Linked DNA regions of Homo sapiens: all the other regions are reported to be linked to region 4. Evidence: microRNA targets listed by miRTarBase, many of them from high-throughput screens and not tested one by one. Region 4 holds a microRNA gene; each other region holds the end of a gene's coding sequence.

The links. Region 4 holds the annotated microRNA hsa-miR-125b-5p (UCCCUGAGACCCUAACUUGUGA, at 879-900, opposite strand). A microRNA usually pairs through its seed, bases 2 to 8, with sites in the 3' UTR of a target mRNA and lowers its output. Matches are read on the target gene's strand: a 7mer-m8 pairs with bases 2 to 8, a 7mer-A1 pairs with bases 2 to 7 and ends in A, and an 8mer does both.
Region 1: miRTarBase lists THUMPD1 as a target of hsa-miR-125b-5p. The part of its 3' UTR that is shown has no 7-base or 8-base seed match.
Region 2: the mRNA of CCNJ is a reported target of hsa-miR-125b-5p. Seed matches in the 3' UTR shown: 8mer at 1,355-1,362.
Region 3: the mRNA of PRDM1 is a reported target of hsa-miR-125b-5p. Seed matches in the 3' UTR shown: 7mer-m8 at 555-561.
Region 5: miRTarBase lists TIMM23 as a target of hsa-miR-125b-5p. The part of its 3' UTR that is shown has no 7-base or 8-base seed match.
Region 6: the mRNA of LTV1 is a reported target of hsa-miR-125b-5p. The part of its 3' UTR that is shown has no 7-base or 8-base seed match.
Region 7: the mRNA of HMGCLL1 is a reported target of hsa-miR-125b-5p. Seed matches in the 3' UTR shown: 7mer-A1 at 1,412-1,418.

The regions. Positions count from the first base shown.
Region 1 is chr16:20,734,430-20,737,513 of GRCh38, forward strand. THUMPD1 (THUMP domain 1 NAT10 acetyltransferase adaptor) reads right to left here. Exons shown (of 4, transcript NM_017736.5): 4 at 1-2,857. The coding sequence ends at 2,451. It also overlaps a transcript of ACSM3 not described here. Among named protein-coding and RNA genes, the nearest start is that of THUMPD1, 5.8 kb to the right of the region's middle.
Region 2 is chr10:96,057,601-96,060,684 of GRCh38, forward strand. CCNJ (cyclin J) reads left to right here. Exons shown (of 6, transcript NM_001134375.2): 6 at 230-3,084. The coding sequence ends at 641. All of the region lies in intron 2 of ENTPD1-AS1 (ENTPD1 antisense RNA 1), which reads right to left. Among named protein-coding and RNA genes, the nearest start is that of MIR3157, 5.3 kb to the right of the region's middle.
Region 3 is chr6:106,107,098-106,110,181 of GRCh38, forward strand. PRDM1 (PR/SET domain 1) reads left to right here. Exons shown (of 7, transcript NM_001198.4): 7 at 1-2,841. The coding sequence ends at 389. Among named protein-coding and RNA genes, the nearest start is that of PRDM1, 22 kb to the left of the region's middle.
Region 4 is chr11:122,098,931-122,102,014 of GRCh38, forward strand. MIR125B1 (microRNA 125b-1) reads right to left here and starts at 914; the gene lies at 827-914. The region is part of intron 4 of MIR100HG (mir-100-let-7a-2-mir-125b-1 cluster host gene); the gene reads right to left.
Region 5 is chr10:46,003,096-46,006,179 of GRCh38, reverse strand. It overlaps TIMM23 (translocase of inner mitochondrial membrane 23), which reads right to left. Exons shown (of 7, transcript NM_006327.4): 7 at 2,438-2,977. The coding sequence ends at 2,862. It overlaps NCOA4 (nuclear receptor coactivator 4), which reads left to right. Exons shown (of 10, transcript NM_001145263.2): 10 at 1-1,092. Among named protein-coding and RNA genes, the nearest start is that of SNORA74C-1, 20 kb to the right of the region's middle.
Region 6 is chr6:143,863,336-143,866,419 of GRCh38, reverse strand. It overlaps LTV1 (LTV1 ribosome biogenesis factor), which reads right to left. Exons shown (of 11, transcript NM_032860.5): 11 at 2,608-3,003. The coding sequence ends at 2,893. ZC2HC1B (zinc finger C2HC-type containing 1B) reads right to left here and starts at 1,946. Exons shown (of 8, transcript NM_001013623.3): 1 at 1,853-1,946. The coding sequence starts at 1,880.
Region 7 is chr6:55,433,205-55,436,288 of GRCh38, forward strand. It overlaps HMGCLL1 (3-hydroxy-3-methylglutaryl-CoA lyase like 1), which reads right to left. Exons shown (of 9, transcript NM_001042406.2): 9 at 1,169-2,559. The coding sequence ends at 2,458. Among named protein-coding and RNA genes, the nearest start is that of GFRAL, 110 kb to the left of the region's middle.

The DNA.
Region 1 (3,084 bases), not on the chromosome of region 4:
AGGTCCTGCCTATTCTCTTTGCCCCTCTCAAATCATTCTAGTCTGGTTTACCAAACAGAACCACCAGCTAGGAGGATAAAAATACATTCCCATGTTCACTAGCCATTAAATGAACATAGCCACTTGTGCAGGAAGCCTAACATTTTTAGGATTTCCTAACTTTTTAAAACTTAAGGATAAGTCCATTTCTACAAGCTAATTTTACAGCTCCTTAATATTCTTAATCTGGACAGTTAATTTTGCAGACTTTGTTGGTGTCTGCCTTTTCAATTGTTTTACCCAAAAAGAGGCCTTGAAAAAACTTTCAAATTCAGGAAACCCCTAAACCCCTGCAGAGAACCCTCATGGTATGTGAGTGTGAGCACTAAGTTGAAGAATACTCTTATTTCACAGAAATCTAGGACTGTCAGACTAGGGCTGAGTTCATTCTCTTCCTTCAGAGACAAAATTTCAAGCTGAGCAGATTCAGAGACAAGGGTTCCTCATAGGTTATATACTAGTGCTGGGAAAAGGAGAGAAAATGCTATTTCATTGGGTCTTGTGGTTCCTCCAGCCGGGTTAGAACAAGATTTGAGAGTTGCACCCTTTATTTTCAAGGCCAAGTGGCTGCAGAAACATTTCAAGAATTCCTCTGGCAAGGTGGCAAGTCAGTTTCCTTTTAGATCTAAGAGTCTTGTCGCTTTAAGAAAAATTTTTTTCCCCAGAACCTTTCAGAGACTTGTCCATTTGTTCATGTGATGAAAAACGTCTGCAAAATAGGCTACTTTCTGTAGTCATTTTTCATTTCCAAAGCACTCAGCAAAAGCTGGCTGTTTTATTGTAAGTACTCTGGCAATTCACCTTTCAATTCAAATATCCTGTAGAGAACGCTTCCTCTGAGAAGCCACTGGATGTCTGTATGGTGCAGGAGGTTTATGTGCTGTCTGTCCAGGTTTTTGTTTTGGGTGTTTTTTTTTTTTTTTAACATTTTTGCATAAATGGGTCTTTGATACAGGTAACCAGTTTTGTAACATTATTCAGAACTTCACTGTATCTTCAAGTTTTTGATATCAGCATCTCTGTGGAGAAAGCAGTGTGCTATAATGTCAACATCAGGATTTCTTTTTTTTTTTTTAATAACGCAAAATGACTTATGGAGACAACCACTGATGGGGCACCAGGAGTGTAGATACCAGACCTCTGGTTATCAGATATGATGTCACAACATTATATATTGGCCTTTGTTCTGGCAGGCTCCTAGCAATAGAAAAAGTTTTCTTTGAATTTCATCATTTACAAATCTTACAAATGCTACAGCATGACAAATATTAGTGAAACCTGTTGACTCATCATCCTGGATAGAGAAGCTGCTACTTTTCAGTTAATGACACAAAACCTTTTTTGCATCATATGACATATCATCAGTAAATCAACTTATTGAGAATAAAGTCTCTTCAACTTTGTACTGCATCTTGCCCCAGCATTTTAATGTTATTAGATTCTCACCAACCATGCATATTTTCCTTTCCTGAGATAAGTTCTGCTACTAAATAATTTGCTTCTTAAACCTTTTGACTAAAGGTGATTTCTGAACAAAAGCCTTACTGTTTTTGATAGTCCAAAAGCCATTTGAAAATAATGAATATCCTTTCTTGTCAAGTGGCTGTGATTTATTGTTACAATTGCTAGTTTTGTAAGTTGCATGTCACAGACAATGCACAATGGGACAGGAGAGCTTGGACTGAGTCCACATAATACCCTTGAGAAGTAGCTTTCTTTATTAAGACAGAATTTCTTTGTGTCCCTTGTTGCACTAGTATACTGAAGTATACTCAGAAGACTGAAGTTCTTCATCACCAACCTTTTCAGAAATGTCTGTAGTTCTATGCCTAAAATGGTTCTCGTCTCTCTCACATCTTGCCTTCCAAAATTGCGACACTGGACTGTCAGCTATATTACACACAAATGTTAAAAAAAAAAAAAAAAAACAGACATAAACAAGAAAATCACAAAAGTACAAAAACTTCACTAAACAATTCACTTCTAACCTACATGATCCACATTTTTGCAATGTTTACAACAAAGTGGCAGGCAGACAGCTGAGCTGTGGCATGTAAAAACTCCTTCCTTAGAATGAAAACTTCCCTCTGATTTTCTACTTCACAGGTAGTTCACTCCCTTAAGTCAGCTGGCACTGCAGAAGAGGAGCCTGGGAGAGGCCAACATCCCCCTCCTATCCTCCCCTCTTTGCAACAGCAGCACATGGGTCTGCCTCTACGTAATACCATAAAGGCTGAAAGATCCCTAAAAAAACTGTTAACAGGGCTGCGCAATCATTGCTCACTACTGTGAGAACAGCATAATGCAGCACACAAATAAAAAACTGTTTTTAGTCACAATTTAAGGTGGAGCCCCAGCAACATCTCGTAGAGCCCCAGGTGAGAAACCCACCTCCAACACCAAATGACTTCCTATGAGAAGTCATTTTCATTTGACTTGGATCCTTCTGTGGCTTGACTTGCAAGTTCAGGTTTGGCTCCTCCCTCATTTACCACCTGTGGATTAGACGTTGGTTTTGTCTGCCCCAGCTCCTCAGTATTCTCTGGTACCTGCTGGTTATTTTTTCCTTCTGCTGTGTTGTTTTGGTCTGATTTGTCCGCAGATTCCAGTTTAGCTTCTTTCCCATTTCCCTGCTTTGAGTTAAGCTGTGACGGATCCTTAGGGCTCTTCACCACCTCCTGGAGATTGTATTTTCTAAACAACATGTAATCTTTCACAACACTCAGGCAACAGACAGCTTTGATGATTTCTACTACCACTGTGTACTGTGGATTGGTGAGATCCACTTTATTTTCTGAATTGAGGGTGCACACTATTCCTGTAACAAAAACAGAAAAACACATAGCTGAGGAGGATACCATTACATCTGATAGATACAAAAAATCTTTTGTCTCTGTTTCTTGTTAAAACAAGACATACAGTAATCCACTCTTCTATGTGGACTTCAAATAATCTGAACCCTTACAATAAATAAACACAAATGAAACCCTACAACATTTAATAAGAATTTTTTTCCAAACAAAATTCAATTTCGAGTTAAAAAAG
Region 2 (3,084 bases), not on the chromosome of region 4:
TCTCCCAAACTGGAAATAATCCTCAAAGCTACCAGGAAGGTTCACATCAAGGGAAATAGCTTTAGAAGAACACAAGCGAGGTCTCACTGTTGTTGGAATTATGGTGCAGTGACTGCTACCTGGGTAGTGGTGGTGGAAGAAGCTGTTGAGTTGGGGATGGGGCATGATTTTCTTGCAGATTTCTTCTCAAGCAGTATTTTTAATAGTTTCCTTTCTCTCCACGTTTCAGCGCTCATGATAATGATGTGAAAGAAGCAAACAAACAGAGAGGGCAAGCAGGACCTCAGTCAGCGCAACTAAGTGTATTCCAGACAGCCTCCCAGCCATCACGGCCAGTTCACTTTCAGCAACCTCAGTATCTCCATCAGACACATCAGACCTCACTGCAGTATCGCCATCCTACGTCAGAACAACCAAGCTGTCAGCAGATTGTATCGACCACACACACCTCATCTTACACACTACAGACATGTCCTGCTGGCTTCCAAACTAGTGTTCAGGGCCTTGGGCACATGCAGACTGGTGTTGGGATGTCACTGGCAATACCAGTAGAAGTTAAGCCCTGTCTGAGTGTTTCTTACAACCGGAGTTATCAGATAAATGAACATTACCCTTGTATTACTCCATGTTTTGAAAGGTGATTATTTGTGAAGCTGATAACCGACCCAGACTGCTTTGTGACATGAAGCTATGGGTAAGCGTTTTGTAAACTTCTGTTCAAAAGGAAAGGGATCTAAATGACATCAGAACTCTTCAGGTACCAGCACCAGGAAGACTGAATATCCTTTTTAATGCACCATGAATCCTGGGAGACTAAGCAAATTAACAGTATGTCAAATTCTGTTACAACAAATCCCTGTATGACAAAAATGTTCAAGTCCTGGCTGATGGTCCAAATATTTCAAAAATATTCAGTACAACAGAAAATTTGGACAGACTTCAATTTGCCATTTTGAGATTTGACCTGTGGTAGCATCTGGGCCTAATGTTGGCTTCTAAGTCAAAGACTAAATGTTTATCTCATCTATGGACTTGCCAAACAGTCTTTTATGAAGGAAAGTTACAGTATTAATTTTTGAAAAGGTTTTTTTTATTCTGCAATTTTTTATTTTTGTTCTACACATGAATTTTTGACTAAGTTTAAACTCATGAATTGTTATGCTATACCAATCTGCAGTAAAAAAAATTTTTTTAGATGATTCTATATAACTTCGTCTCACAAATAGTGTAGGTATCTGGGTTTATATACTAAAATTAAGGGTGGAGAAGATCTTATTTTTTAAATCATGGTCATAATTTTTCTTTTTTTCCCTAAGTGATCAACATCAAATTTTTAGAATTAAAATACATTTAACTCAGGGAATTTGTACTACTTGGAAACACTTAACTGTAATGCAACATGCCTTGGGAATGTTATAGTGTGAACTACCTTTATAACATAGGTTAAAATACGCTTGCTAGGGTGTGTTTTCAAATGAGAACATAATATAGCTCAGAATGAAGTGGTAGTTCCTGTGATTCATAATACATATGTAGGTTTTGCATATCTCAGTGCAATCCATGATTTATACTCAGAATCGACATTCTTAAAAAGTTATTTCAAGGGATGGCATAACTGTAAGAGGTCAGTGCTAGAATAAAGTCCTGTAGGTTTATTTTGGAAGGGACTGTGGCCAGGGTAGTTCTCAGGTTGTGCTAGAGCAGCACTTTGTTATGTGGAAGACAGGTTTTTTAAGCAACCTTTGAATCCAGCTCTAGTCAGTCTAAGCAGGCAAAGGTAACTGATGACTAAATTTCAGTAGCTACTTTCATTGGATTGACCCTACAACTGCCCTGGGACATTTCACTGTACCAGTATTAACTGCAAACAGCAATAATTGTCATTACAGCAAGGGCAGTTTGGGGGTAAAGCATTTTGGAGGAATAACCTTAAAAAGTTAAAAAGTCATTGTAATAACTGATAAACTGTATACATTGTGCTCCTTTCTGTGGGAGAAGAAAGATTTGGTGGAGGGAAGCTTTCTGGTTTAAAAATTAGTAAGGTGTGTCTTTTTGTTTTTTTTAAGATAGCACTTGAATAGAAGGGAAAACTGCATGGCAGATACGTGACTGCCACAATATGCATCGAAGACAAACTTACTATAAAGATGTTGTGGGTATGCAGCAGGAGTCTCAGTAATCAAGCCAATGGCCTTTGTCAGGAAGGGAAGGGGCTCAACACAGTGATGGACTGATCCAGATGGCTCCCGGGGATGAATGTGGGTGGGTAGCTTCTGTCAGTATCAATGCTTAGAGAAATATCCTTTCCTTAAAAAGAAAATAACTTTTATATTTAGAGTACATAGGGCATGATGTGGATTTATTAGTCTGGTAGATAAAATGAAAAACCACTCAGGTAAGAACACTCACTCATGGCAGTTTTTAAGCATGAAAATTGTTTTCTGAAAGTATCATCACTTTTCCTTTTTAAAGAAGGCTGCTAATTGGATTTTGGTAGTTCTTACCTCAAGAAAACTTGAATTATTTGGGGGAAAGTAGGCTCAAAAGAGAATATATCTTTCACATTCACATTCAGAACCCAGCAACCTGGAGTCCAATTTTCAGTATTTTAACTACCTCAATAATGCTATGAATGTAAGATATTGGGATAGAGATCCCAACTTGAAACAACAGCCAGTGCCTGTGGTAACTTAATGTCTTGTCAAATACTTTTATTGATTGGTTTATATGCCATTCTTGTTATAGAAGAATATGCCTTTTAAAAAAGCTTATTAATAACACTTTCCCAATTTATATTTTAAAAAGCTAAAGAACACTGGATTAATAATCTTTTGGGAGGGTAGAATAAAATAATTGATTACTATTGCTGCATACCCGGGGTGGGATGGGGTGGTTGGAGAACCAGAACTATTTTTAAAACATTAGGTTTCAATATAAATACAACTCACAACTGCTAGCTTTGGGGGGTGGGGGAACATTGTGTGGGTTTTGTTTTGTTTAATTTATTGATTAGTCTTTAAAGTAGGCTTTTTTTTTTTTTTTTGAGAATACTGGACCATCATTAAATGTGTACTGTGAAGAGAT
Region 3 (3,084 bases), not on the chromosome of region 4:
TCCATCTCTGTAGCCTCAAGGTTCACCTGAAAGGGAACTGCGCTGCGGCCCCGGCGCCTGGGCTGCCCTTGGAAGATCTGACCCGAATCAATGAAGAAATCGAGAAGTTTGACATCAGTGACAATGCTGACCGGCTCGAGGACGTGGAGGATGACATCAGTGTGATCTCTGTAGTGGAGAAGGAAATTCTGGCCGTGGTCAGAAAAGAGAAAGAAGAAACTGGCCTGAAAGTGTCTTTGCAAAGAAACATGGGGAATGGACTCCTCTCCTCAGGGTGCAGCCTTTATGAGTCATCAGATCTACCCCTCATGAAGTTGCCTCCCAGCAACCCACTACCTCTGGTACCTGTAAAGGTCAAACAAGAAACAGTTGAACCAATGGATCCTTAAGATTTTCAGAAAACACTTATTTTGTTTCTTAAGTTATGACTTGGTGAGTCAGGGTGCCTGTAGGAAGTGGCTTGTACATAATCCCAGCTCTGCAAAGCTCTCTCGACAGCAAATGGTTTCCCCTCACCTCTGGAATTAAAGAAGGAACTCCAAAGTTACTGAAATCTCAGGGCATGAACAAGGCAAAGGCCATATATATATATATATATATATCTGTATACATATTATATATACTTATTTACACCTGTGTCTATATATTTGCCCCTGTGTATTTTGAATATTTGTGTGGACATGTTTGCATAGCCTTCCCATTACTAAGACTATTACCTAGTCATAATTATTTTTTCAATGATAATCCTTCATAATTTATTATACAATTTATCATTCAGAAAGCAATAATTAAAAAAGTTTACAATGACTGGAAAGATTCCTTGTAATTTGAGTATAAATGTATTTTTGTCTTGTGGCCATTCTTTGTAGATAATTTCTGCACATCTGTATAAGTACCTAAGATTTAGTTAAACAAATATATGACTTCAGTCAACCTCTCTCTCTAATAATGGTTTGAAAATGAGGTTTGGGTAATTGCCAATGTTGGACAGTTGATGTGTTCATTCCTGGGATCCTATCATTTGAACAGCATTGTACATAACTTGGGGGTATGTGTGCAGGATTACCCAAGAATAACTTAAGTAGAAGAAACAAGAAAGGGAATCTTGTATATTTTTGTTGATAGTTCATGTTTTTCCCCCAGCCACAATTTTACCGGAAGGGTGACAGGAAGGCTTTACCAACCTGTCTCTCCCTCCAAAAGAGCAGAATCCTCCCACCGCCCTGCCCTCCCCACCGAGTCCTGTGGCCATTCAGAGCGGCCACATGACTTTTGCATCCATTGTATTATCAGAAAATGTGAAGAAGAAAAAAATGCCATGTTTTAAAACCACTGCGAAAATTTCCCCAAAGCATAGGTGGCTTTGTGTGTGTGCGATTTGGGGGCTTGAGTCTGGGTGGTGTTTTGTTGTTGGTTTTTGTTGCTTTTTTTTTTTTTTTTTTTTTAATGTCAAAATTGCACAAACATGGTGCTCTACCAGGAAGGATTCGAGGTAGATAGGCTCAGGCCACACTTTAAAAACAAACACACAAACAACAAAAAACGGGTATTCTAGTCATCTTGGGGTAAAAGCGGGTAATGAACATTCCTATCCCCAACACATCAATTGTATTTTTTCTGTAAAACTCAGATTTTCCTCAGTATTTGTGTTTTTACATTTTATGGTTAATTTAATGGAAGATGAAAGGGCATTGCAAAGTTGTTCAACAACAGTTACCTCATTGAGTGTGTCCAGTAGTGCAGGAAATGATGTCTTATCTAATGATTTGCTTCTCTAGAGGAGAAACCGAGTAAATGTGCTCCAGCAAGATAGACTTTGTGTTATTCTATCTTTTATTCTGCTAAGCCCAAAGATTACATGTTGGTGTTCAAAGTGTAGCAAAAAATGATGTATATTTATAAATCTATTTATACCACTATATCATATGTATATATATTTATAACCACTTAAATTGTGAGCCAAGCCATGTAAAAGATCTACTTTTTCTAAGGGCAAAAAAAAAAAAAAAAAAAAAAGAACACTCCTTTCTGAGACTTTGCTTAATACTTGGTGACCTCACAATCACGTCGGTATGATTGGGCACCCTTGCCTACTGTAAGAGACCCTAAAACCTTGGTGCAGTGGTGGGGACCACAAAACAACCAGGGAGGAAGAGATACATCATTTTTTAGTATTAAGGACCATCTAAGACAGCTCTATTTTTTTTTTGCCACTTTATGATTATGTGGTCACACCCAAGTCACAGAAATAAAAAACTGACTTTACCGCTGCAATTTTTCTGTTTTCCTCCTTACTAAATACTGATACATTACTCCAATCTATTTTATAATTATATTTGACATTTTGTTCACATCAACTAATGTTCACCTGTAGAAGAGAACAAATTTCGAATAATCCAGGGAAACCCAAGAGCCTTACTGGTCTTCTGTAACTTCCAAGACTGACAGCTTTTTATGTATCAGTGTTTGATAAACACAGTCCTTAACTGAAGGTAAACCAAAGCATCACGTTGACATTAGACCAAATACTTTTGATTCCCAACTACTCGTTTGTTCTTTTTCTCCTTTTGTGCTTTCCCATAGTGAGAATTTTTATAAAGACTTCTTGCTTCTCTCACCATCCATCCTTCTCTTTTCTGCCTCTTACATGTGAATGTTGAGCCCACAATCAACAGTGGTTTTATTTTTTCCTCTACTCAAAGTTAAAACTGACCAAAGTTACTGGCTTTTTACTTTGCTAGAACAACAAACTATCTTATGTTTACATACTGGTTTACAATGTTATTTATGTGCAAATTGTCAAAATGTAAATTAAATATAAATGTTCATGCTTTACCAAAATTTGTCTAGTGTCTTGAGTGAAGGGTCAGTGAGCGACATCTCCATACTGTACAGATGGCACCAGAACAAATTTTGAACACAATGCAATTTGTCTCTCCCCTGCCCCCACCCCTGTTCTTCTGCAGCACCCTCTGGGGTGCCCTGATCTCCCCCGGCTCCTTCCAGGAGTATATTTGTGCGTGATCTGACAGCATTGATTTGTCTCTCATAACTAAGATTTTTCTTTATGAACTATAAAAATGT
Region 4 (3,084 bases):
GAATTTAAGTACTGATAAAATTTTCCTTAGTTTTAAAATGAAAACCAGTATTTGTTACTCCCAAAGAATACGATAATTGTGTTTGCTGTTGCTGTTGCTTTCATTTTACATATTTAGAAGATTTATTTCCAATCTTTATCACCTTTATATCCATAAAGTATAACATTTTGTAAAAGATACCAAGCAAGGAGGTGGTATCCCTCCTTTTATTTTTAAAAAATCTTGCAAAGTCATACAAACTTAATTTTTATTAATACCATAACTTCCATCCTTTGTGTGGAATTGCAAGAATAGAATTTTAACCTATTAATATTTTACTCCAAACTATTAGTTTGCCTTTATCTGCGTCTGTATGTTCACTGTCTAGCCATCCATGATACACATGTGTGGACACTGAATATATAATATATTCACATGCCCATTTTAATTGGGCACAATTTTAAGATTAACTGTGGAGTTTGAAAGTTGGAGACATGGGGCATGCTGGGACTTCAGCTGAGATGTTCTGAGGTCAAGCACCAGGTACTGAGCTGTTCTTGTTACGCTCGTATACTACTGCGTGTTGCTCTCAAGGAATAGACCAGGCAGATGAGTTCCACAAGCCTCAGGCATCAATAACATGCATACATACACATAGCAGCCAACACGCTATTAAAGCAAAATATATACCTACTTTAACAGAAATCCAGGAGCTGCCACTCTCTGGTCACCTGATCCCATCTAACAATGAAAACCTCAGAGGTATACTCAATCACCTCAGACAAACTTTCTTTTCTTTTGTTTTTGCTTTAAAGAATAAAATTCCACCAAATTTCCAGGATGCAAAAGCACGACTCGCAGCTCCCAAGAGCCTAACCCGTGGATTTAAACGGTAAACATCACAAGTTAGGGTCTCAGGGACTGAGAGGAGCGCAACAATGTTTTCTTTCTTGAGACAAAGCAAAGCAAAACAAGAATGACAGGCAATTTCTGTTCGAGGTTCATAACTAAGATGCAACAAACAGGTGGTATGGTATTTCTTCTCTAAGCTCCTTTCCTTCACAAAATTGAGATTCCGTTTAAGCCTAATACATATATACACACATACGCAGTATCTGGGGGCGCATATACAATCACGCACATACACATACGATCACGAGTACATCAGAGAAAACTCTTTCAAGATTTGGGCAAAATAGTTCACTAAAACGGAAAATAATATGCACAGACTCAGAAATGCCCAAGTTTTTAAAACCATAGTCTACAATAAGGATTTAGTGTCTTTTCAAAGCTTTAATTTACGACTAGCACAAATGACTGAAGAGAAAATAGGAGGCATCTCTTTCCCCCAGGGCAAGTATGCCGCATGCAAAAATCATAGAAATCGGGTTTTCAAAGGAGAAGACCAAGAAGTAGGATTCGGAGGCTATAGAAGTGTAAAGACGAATAGCGTTCTGAACTCACCCATTCGAAGCGGAGCGGGGCCCGCACAGCCTCCTGTGGCACCATCCCGAGCAAGGGGGGAAAATGAGAGCTCTCAGTGCGCTAGGCTGGGCGAGGTGTTTCAATAGAGGACGGAGAACGGGGGCGGGGAGGGGAGGCGGGGGCAGGAAGCGATACACCAAATCTCGAGACTGTAACTCTGTAGCTTATGCTTTGACGAGAGAAAAAAGGGCAGTTGGGTGGGAGTGGAGGGAGGGGCTGGAACTGATCAAATTTGGAAAATATTCACTTAAAAATTAAAAAAAGGCGGGGGGGGGGGGGGAGTATGAAACCTCCCCAGAGCTGCTTTTTGAAAAATTTCTTCCTTCTTTCTTTAGCGTGCACTTTGCCAGTCCTGCAAACGGAGGCTTCGTCTGCATCAGCTGCTTGGCTGAAGTCAAGGCCAAATCACCAAGAGCGAGCACCAGGCTGTCATTTGGTAGACACGAAGTGGGAAGGGCTGGGTGCGGGCTGGGGAGAGACATTCCCCCCGCACCTCCCGCTGCGGATTCTTTGAAGCCTTTGGCCAATATTTCAGAGGAATCCGAAGCATAATTCCCCTCCATCTTCGCAGACAGCCCCTGGTTCTGTACCTGATAGATTGTCGCTTTCCTCATCAGACTGGAAGTGGGGCTTTCCTGTGCCGCCACCAAAAATGAAAGGAAAAGGAGGGGAGGCAGATGGGAAGATGACCCTTTTACAAATGTTTCTTCTCCTTTTTCTTTCTGTTTTTCATTTCATTTCTTTCTTCTTCTTGTTCTTCTTTTATTCCAGGCCTGAGCAAGGTAGATGGCTGGCTAGTCAAAGAGAATGACAAAGCAGCCACAGCCAGGAGGACACTGGAGAGGCCTCAACGCACTTAGTAAAAATGCTAAATATTTTTTTAGATATTTCCATATGCAACTAAAAACAGTTAGAGCTCTAGACTCTCCCCCTCCCCTCCTTTAAAAATGGAATCATACTAGCAACACAGCTAAATTATGTCTCTTCTCCCTCTGTACAGTGTCTGTTTAGCAGCCCCCCCACCCCCACCTTCAAGACAACTTTTTTCTCACCTCTGTGGGTTCTTCTCAGGCACAATCCTCCGTTGAGCTCAGAGGCTCTCCTTTTTCTCTCCCTTCCCTTTTCCTTTTCCTCTCAGAAAAGCTAGTCTGTCATCATCACACCTAGCTTCTCTCTCGCTCGCTCAACCTCTCTCCTTTTCTCTTTTACCATTAAAATATAATAATAATAATGGCCCTTTCGACATAGCAGCATGAAGTGGCTGCCTTTGAGAAGCACATTTAATCTTTACTGGCTCCCCTAGGCTTCAGTGAAGAAGGAGAAGGCAAGGAAAAAAAAAGGAGAGAGAGAAAAAAAGATTGTAAGGGAGGCTGCTGACGGACAGCAGGCATCAGGCACAAATCAGCGACAAGTTGAATTTTCCTAGACCACACTGCCCCCTTTCTTCTCGGCTTGCTCCCTGGGCTCCTGGAAAGCCTGAGTGTCTGGTTACAGGAGGCAACGGGTCTCTTTTTGCCAACCATGGTGCAGATTCCTCGCATGCCTGCTTAAATCTCTGGCAGAATAAGAAATCAATATCCCCCTCTAATCACCTTTAGCTCTTCGATGGCTTCCCCCCTT
Region 5 (3,084 bases), not on the chromosome of region 4:
GCTTCTCTTGCTGTGGGTTTTCTTTTGTTAGTGGTCTGAAATAATTATTTTCCTGTTCTATTAATACATAGTGTATTTTGCACAAAAAAATTAACCTGGTCAATAGTGATTACCAAAATATATATTAATAATCTTGGCAATTTTTGACATTAATTATGAAACATTTTAGCCCACGTTAGTTCTACATTATTCTTCACTTAAACTCAGCTACTGCAAATTTTGTCTTTCTGTAAATGTTATTAAAATATCCAGTGAGCTCTTTAGAAGGACTCAGTATTATTTCAAGACTATTTTTGAGGTAATTCTAGCCTTTTAAAATATTCTACAGACCTACGGGGCTTAAAAGAACCCCAGTACCGACTAAGCAAATAGGCAAAAGACATGTTGGAAATGTAGTATAGTACTTGAAACAGTCACTATCATAGGGATAATTGGTGCATCCTGTGTAAATGGAAGCTGAGCTTGACACCTGGTGCTTTTAAGTAGGGATAAAGTCATCCTCTCACTGCAAGCACAGCATACCTGTACCTCCAAAAGTGACGTTTTAGTGAACAGGCCGTTTTCAACACTTGTGCCTTGGGGTGTTCATTGAAGCTTTGTGAAAACTACTGATGTTTTCTCAGTCTCCTTAAAGTTACGTCCATGCTTTAAAATGTCTGTGTAGGAGAGAAGTGGGGTTTATAATGTTTTCTCTAAGATATCTTTGCTGCTTTCCAGACTTTGAAACTATTAAGCTTCTTAACTGCCTCTTACCGGAAATACTTCTGGGGAAACTTCATGGTCCCAAAATGTCATTGCCATACAGCTTCACTAGAGTTCTTTGAACCACAGCTGAAAAGAGCTTTGTATTATTTTTTAATTCCCTCCCCAGATATCATTTAGGAGTATTATATAAAGGTGGTGGGCAAAAACAATGTAAGGAGCCTTTCCAGTTATCTTGAGTTGCAGCTCTGTAGTTTCTTGAGGCCAAACACACTGTATTTTACAAGTCAAAATATAATTTACATTAATCACTATGTTAATGAGTATGTAAAACATTCTTTTGCATTGATGAATTTTGTATCTGCTTCCATTAAAAGCATAACAGCCATAGTTGTTGCGTGTTATTTTTAAAACTATTTGTCACAAAGTGTGGTGTGGTACCACATAACGTGGTAACTTTTGGTTAGTAATCCAGCTGAGAAACAGCTTGAACATAAAAATAACATCAGTGTATTTTATGAAAAATTAGCAAACAATAGGTATATTAACCTCCATTTTCAGTCTTTTATAAAAACTATTCACATCTATTAAAAAAAAACCTATGGGACTTCAGCCAAGATTCAGTGCCTTTCTACTGGATTCCTCTTACTAGATGCATCCGAAGAGGCCCTAGTTTACTTTCTCCAATCATATAGCCACCAGGTATTTAATACAGTAATATTTATGTGTATAACCTGTAGTGCAATTATACATGATTAACTTCATATGGTGGATGAGAAAACAAACTCAGAAATTAAACAATTTGGCCTCATGTCCTTTAGTTTTCCCAAGGCTTCCTTGAAAAACATCTAGCTCTTGGCCAGGCACGGTCGCTCACGCCTGTAATCCCAGCACTCTGGGAGGCTAAGGCAGGTGGATCACCTGAGGTCAGGAGTTCGAGACCACCCTGACCAACATAGTAAACCCCGCCTCTACTAAAAATACAAAAATTAGCTGGGCATGGTGGCAAGTGCCTGTAATCCCAGCTACTTGGGAGACTGAGGCAGAATTACTTGAACCCGGGAGGTGTTCAAGTAATCTCAGCAGTGCGCTGAGATTGTACCACCGCACTCCAGCCTGGGGAACAGAGACCCTGTCTCAAAAAAAAAAAAAAAAAAAACCTAGCTCTTAATTATTCCTAGTAAGGTGTGAGTTAATATGTATGGAATGAAGCAGGATTGTTGGAAAGATTGTTCTAGCATACTAGTCTAACGGCTGACCTGAAATACCTTGAGGTGGTTTAGTACCAGCTCTATTGGTGAATGCCACCAGTAGCTCATTTCTTTTTTTGAAATGGAGTCTCACTCTGTCACCTGGGCTGGAGTGCAGTGGCATGATCTGGGCTCACTGCAACCTCCGCCTCCTGGGTTCAAGCGATTCTCCAGCCTCAACCTCCTGAGTAGCTGGGGTTACAGGTGCACACCCACCACACCCAGCTGATTTTTGTATTTTTAGTAGAGACAAGGTTTCACCATATTGGCCAGGCTGATTTTCAAACTCCTGACCTCAGGTGATCCACCTGCCTTGGCCTCCCAAAGTACAGGGATTACAGGCGTGAGCCACCACACCCGGCCACCAAGTAGCTCATTTTAACACAAACACGAAGATGTTGTTTTGCCCACTGGGACAAAAAATGCCAAGGGTACCTTTCACTTTATACCCAGGTAGATACTTTTAAATTGAGACAACCACTATGTTTGTGTGTTGGAGTTATAACTTTGGTTCTGTTTTTACCCTTTATTTGGAATACAGTGCAACATTACAGTTTTGGATCATTAAATGAATGGACTTGGTGATATAGTACTAACAAGCACGACCTGAATTCTGGGAGTAAGTGGTTTTCTAGTTCATGGGGGAGGAAAACAGATACGTGCAAGATCTCCAGAGGAGAACAGAACCATGGTACTCAGTGAGTCACCAAAGGGCTTTGGCTTCAACTCACTAATGGCTGGAACAAGTGCCAGTCTTGGTCAGCCATCCAGGATTTTCATCACAGCAAATCAAAATCTCCAATTTTTCAAACTAATTGTAGGTAGAAGAGAGAGAATAACTCCAAACTGTCTTATAAAAGGATCTAGATGACTACTGAAGTGTCCTCCATTCATGAGTTGGCAAAATCTTCAGAGTGACTGTTGGAGCAAGGAGCCTTTCATGTGCTCCCAGTTATTATATAGTGCATAGAGGCTGGTAAGTGTTAGTCCTGTCAGACCACCTCGTGCTATCCCTCGAAGACCACCTGGGAAACAGAGACAAAAGGAAAATGAAATAGCTGTATATTGCATAGTGCCCTAGCACGATAGGGTTAAATAAAAAGTACTGTGAAATGGGCTGGGCACGGTGGCT
Region 6 (3,084 bases), not on the chromosome of region 4:
CTGCTCCCAGTCAGCCATGTGATCACGAGGGCAAATTGATAACTCTACAGCGTGCTGTATTGCCAGATGGTTTTGCACAACTGTGGGCTAATGGAAAGTATTCTGAGCAAGTTTAAGGTAGGCTAGGCTGAGCTATGATGTTCAGTAGGTTAGGTGTAGTAAATGCATTTTTGGCTTACCATGTTTTCAGCTTATGGTGGGCTTATCAGGGCATAATCCCACCACGAGTCAAGGAGCATCTGTGGTACTATGATATCCAAGTGGTTTTACACCATTCACGGGCAGTGCTTAAACAAAATAGGTGGGCCGGGTGTTGGCGGCTCATGCCTGTAATCCCAGCACTTTGGGAGGCCGAGGCGGGCGGATCATAAGGTCAAGAGTTTTGAGACCAGCCTGGCCAACATGGCGAAACCCTGTCTCTACTAAGAATACAAAAATTAGCTGGGCATGGTGGTGCACACCTGTAATCCCAGCTACTCGGGAGGCTGAGGCAGGGGAATCGCCTGAACCCGGGAGTTGGAGGTTGCAGTGAGATGAGATCGCACTACTGCGCTCCAGCTCGGGCGCCAGAGCAAGACCTGTCTTGGCAAAAAAAAAAAGTTTAAGATACAAATTCTTCAAGATTTTGCCCCCTGCCTGGATCTCTTAGGCCTTTCTCTCCTCCCTAACCCCAGTGATTCTAGGCCCTGCTATGGTTCTATGTTTAATTCTTTTCTGAAATCTTTCCCATCTATCCATTCATTCATACACTACTTTGTGACTGTATACTGAATGCCAGGCACCCTTCCAGACCTAAGGATAAAGCAATAAATAAAACACTGTGCCTTCAGGGTTTGTCCTGCGAGAGGAGACTGAAAAACAGTCCTCTGCGTCAACAGATGTTGTGGAGAACATAAACCAGGGAAGGAGGGTCAAGGATGCAGGGGAGGGATGCGTGCAGGATTTTTAAATACAAGCTCAGGGAATAGCCTATAGTGAAGGTTACAGCTGAGCACCAACCATGAGGAAGGTCTGTCTGCAGTGAAAGCACTTCTGGGGGAACAGCAAGTACCAAGATTCTAATTACAAGTGGTACTTACCACGATAGTATTGCCAGTTACATTTCGCTGCACCTATCCTGCCTCCTCAGACCATGTGGCTCCTGAAGGCAAAAACCCTCTGATCTCTTGGGCTCCCAACATTTAGCATGGAGCTTTTATGTTCAGTTCCCAATCATCATTTATAGATTTTTAGAGAACCAAGATATCAGAAAATTCATTTAAAGTATCATGAATTTGTTCTTCAGAATAAAATTAAAATATTTAAGTTTGGAGTATAACCTGCCTAAATCACAATATGCTTCATCAAGACTCATGGCCTAGTCTTTTTCTCTTAATTGCAAAATATATAATATATGGATTTAAACACAGTGAAGTTAGCACCTCATAACACAGAATTTGAGTAACATGACAAAGAAACATCCAATGCCTATTAAGACTCTTGCTGTTTTTGAGAATCTTCAGTTGAGACAGCTATCAAAATAAATGGCCAATCCTTTTAGTACTTACATTCTCAATATTGACATAAACCATCATCTGACCCTTTACTTCACAGGTTGGCATTTAAATACATTCTCTCCAGTATCCTACTTCTGCAATGACAAGCTCTTCAGTCAAGATTTTTTTCTAGCCAATGTTGGTAGAATACCTAATGCCATCAGTTTTGACAACTCTTTAAAAATCCTACAATACTTAGATTTAAACGGATCACACATGGTAGAACAAGCTAATACCTACCAGCTTTGGAAAAGCCATAAATGAATGATTACAGATGAAGGCATTTTCTAATAATTTAGATATCAAGTGCAGCTCACCTGCCAAAAATGGTTCTGCCCCAGCCATTCTGTTCCTAACTCAGAGCAACAGTGTTCACAGATTTTTACAGCCCAGTCCAGATAACATCATACTAGTCAAGAACATAAACCAGGACCACTAATCTGTTGCAAGAAGTCATAGTTTACCAAATAATCAACAATTGTGATGATGTCATTGCCTAAACCTTGAAAAAGTTTAAATCAGTTAAAACAAAAATCAACTCATCAAAAACAGGGAAAGTTTTCAACGATGTATTTTAATCAAGTATGAATGGTTCCAAGCATTAACTGATGTTGAAAAGACAAACTCCCCAGTTTAAACTGAAATAAATATTTCTGATTTTGAACTAGGGACTCACTGAAGCCAAATAAGTTTTCTTATTTCCTTGACTATTCTGTTTCCTGCCTTCACTGTTCCTAAATCCCAAAAGCAAGTCATCCAGTAATATAACAGGAAATATGAATCTTAAGAACCTTAATATTCAGTTTTGCCACACTTTTGAAACAGTCCTTTGTATACAGCAAGGGAAAACTTAGCTTCCTAACAGTGGAACCTTCTCAGAAAAACTCATCTTACACTAAACAGAATAAAGTCAGCATTTCAAAATTGAGTTTAACCAGGCCACTTTTCTATTTACAGCAAATTAAACCATGTAATTCCTGAAAAGGCGTGGAGAGGATTCAAAGAAATATTTGAAAACATCTGCAAAAAACAACTATGACAACCATACAAATAAATGAATACACCAATTCCATTCACGTTATGAAGATATTTTCCTTTAATTTATCAAACATTTCACATTCATGAAGTCATTTACTTCAGAGCAAATGTAAGCTTATAATATTAAAAATTAAAGTATTACAATATTTACAAGATGGTTGGCAGGGGACACTTACTAGTATAAAAATAATACAAATATTGTATTTTCCTCTTATCTGCCAGTAAAAATGGCAAACAGTTTTGTCTTTCTGAAGTTTCTAGTCAATAACCAAAGATGAGGAGCCCCTAATAAAGTGCCTTGCCCTGTATGCTCCACTGTCTATAGCTTTAGACCCTCAACATTCTTCTTCAAGTTCAGCAGCTCTTTTTCTTGCCTTCTTTTCTCCAGTTTAAATGCTAATTTGTTAGCTTTCTTCTCCACTCTTCGTTCCTGTTATAAGTACAAGAATATACTTGTATTATTCACATCTTTAAACTGATACAGACTGCTTTTACAAAATTCCCCTAATTT
Region 7 (3,084 bases), not on the chromosome of region 4:
TAATTAAATGAGTTGATGTGAGAGAATGTAACAGGACTTACTTTAAACTGAGTTGTCCAGGAAGATTCATTAAGGAGGTAAAATTTATGCTGAGACCTCAATGACAAGAGGGAGCCAAACATGCCCAGGGAAAGAGCCAGGGAAACAGACACAGAAAAAAACTAAGGTAAAGGACCTGAGATGGATCTGAGTGTGCCTTGTTCCAAAAACAGAGAAGACAGTGGGGTAGACTACAGTGCACAAAGTGAAAAATGGTACAAGAATTTTGAATATATATGAAGCTCGAGATGCCTGTTGGATACCCAAGAGGAGGTATCAAATAGGCAAGTGCCTCTCAAAGTTAATCTGCATATGAGTCACGTAAGGATCTTGTTTAAAATGCAAACTGTGATGCAATGGGTATGGAGTGAAGGCTCAGATTCTATTTCTCAAAAGGTCCCAGGGGATTATCCTGCTGGTCTTGGACCACATGTTGAGTTGCAAGAATGAAGGCAACTGTGCATTTGTGAGTCTGCAGTCAAACATAAGAAGGAAGAGGCCAAAAGATAAATAAGGTGGAGAAAATAAAACCAGAAAAGAAACTCTCTTAAACTATCAAAGGGATTTAGATGGTTTGTGTGGAGAAAGGATACCAAATACCTACAACAAGCTTTCTCATACTAAATGTGATTCAGTAGCATCAAGGTATTCATGGAAGTGACTCAGTACACTGATATGGATGCTATGTAACTGTGCTGTAGACTGTACTTGGAGTTTCTGACTACTTGCTCTGTCTTTCAAAGTCCATGGTTTTCATTTCAAAACAGCAATGCTTTCCCATCATCCCCTTAGTTGTTACTATGGGCAGTTTGTAACAAGAGATGCTTTTCCAAATATCTGAAATTAGGAACAGCATAGCATTGTAAGAGATAGGAAGTCAGTCTCCTCAGAATATGGGGTACGTATCCAGTTGTACACGCTAATTGCAGGTGTCCCATTACTGCCAGTGTGCAGGGTCATGTGCTTCGTGAAGAGAGATGCACAGGGAGATGTAACTGAAAAAGATTCATAACCAGCTTTGATTTTTGTCTGCTCCCTGCATTTCCCCCAACCCACAAACATTAAGCCCAAAACAGAGAATTGCTCTCAGTATTCCTGCTCCAGAACCATGCAACATAATCAGTACTTCTTACTTTCTTGAATTTATTTTTATTTCAATGGTTTTAATGAATATTTCCTAGAAAGTTCACAATACTCATTTTTATGTTTCAATTTATATTCAAATTTACTCAAAGATAATATCACCCGGTATTATTAGAGAAGTCTCTCTAAATACTAGAACTGACATTTCAGATCCATTTGTAATAATACTGCCCCCATAAAATATGCATAGGTTACAGAAGTTTATCTTGAATAGTCCTCCTGCTCCTCATCCCTGACTTTGATATATTACATCTTGCAATTTCTGGCAATCAATTCTAAGACAATAGACAAAATTTCAGCCACTTCAACTTCTAAAATAACCACTAAAAAATACACCAAAAAATAATGTGGGTAAGCAAAGCACCATGAATAAAAGGAAAATGGGTATTTCATTAACCTAAAATTATCTTAATATTCTTAGGATCACAATATTTCCTTGGGCAATTTGAAAGTGATCTGAAAATTATAAAGGTAGATTATGATACATGTATCAACCTATTCTTATCACTGCAATTTAGACATCAGGACAAAAAAAAATAGCTTACAATTTCTCAATAGTTGAGTAACACCATGCTGGTTTTTACTATAACTGATGACAGGTAAAGTGTGGTAAACTGGATGCATGTAACAAACATGGGAGGTCGTAATATGTTTCCAGGATATGGCATCTTGCCATTGGCCACAGCCTCTTGGAACCAGATAAAGTCACTGAAATAGTTAACAGATGTTAGCCATACTTGAAATATAAAAGTTCTATTGCTAAAATTATGTAGGGTCAGATGGAGATTTGGCTTTTGGTCCATAACATAACTGACTTGGCAAATGAGTAGTTGAGATCCAGAGGCATAATGTATAATATTGAGGCCACACACTCTGCATACTATGCAGGAGCTCATAAACTACTGACAATATGTACACAGTGTTAAGCCTGCTTGATTAAGTATTAACACAGTATTTGATACTTGGGGAAATACGAAGTCAATTTTCCCATCTACTAAATTAAAAAGTTATTTCTATGAGAGCAAAAGAAACTTTTTTCCAAGTTCAAAATTATGACAAGTTTTATTATTTATCCTCAGCTTGCAATTTACCTGATGACTGATATTGCATTTTGTTGACTTAATCTATCCAGTTATAATCTTTTTGAAAAGGATCTCTTTTTTCCCACTCTTGTCCATTACTTCACATATCAGAGCAAGTTGGCATTAATGATTTTCAGATGAGTATTGTAGCTGAAATTGATCTTCTCAACGGTACGTCATAAATCCATTCAAGTCAAGCATTGAAGGAGGCTTGTGCTACTTTAGAGTTTGTGGTTTTATTCACAGCTTTGCAAATAAAGTCACCAGCTTCCATCACTTTGTATAGATTCACACCCTGGTGACGAAATGAAGGAATATCAGGAAGGCAGAGGGATTAGAGAGAAAAAAGATAAAACATAGCCTTTTAAATTTTATTAGTAGTTACTTAACCATTTAAAATTACTAAACAAAGTGGTGTTGGTCATTATCAATTTTGGGGCAACATTTGTTTCCATGAATAATGTTGTTAACATTTTAGATTTGTCTGCTTTATTACAGCATATCTTTAATCTGACCCTTGTATAATAATATAGGTAGACACACTTGAAAAACATCATAATTCAGGCTGGTATCTAGAGTCTAGGAAGGACAATAATGGAACTAGAAAAGCAGTCAACAAAGCATCAGCGAAGGACAATCAAAATAATGTTTTGGAGCAGTTTATAGATAAGAACTGACTTAGAAAAAAAACTATCCTCTTTACTATATAAAGAAACAAACTTGAAAAAGCCATAAGGATTACAGAAAAGGTGTATGCATATATATACATATATATTTTTTAAACCAAGGCCAGAAATACTATTACTAGTATGATATTGAA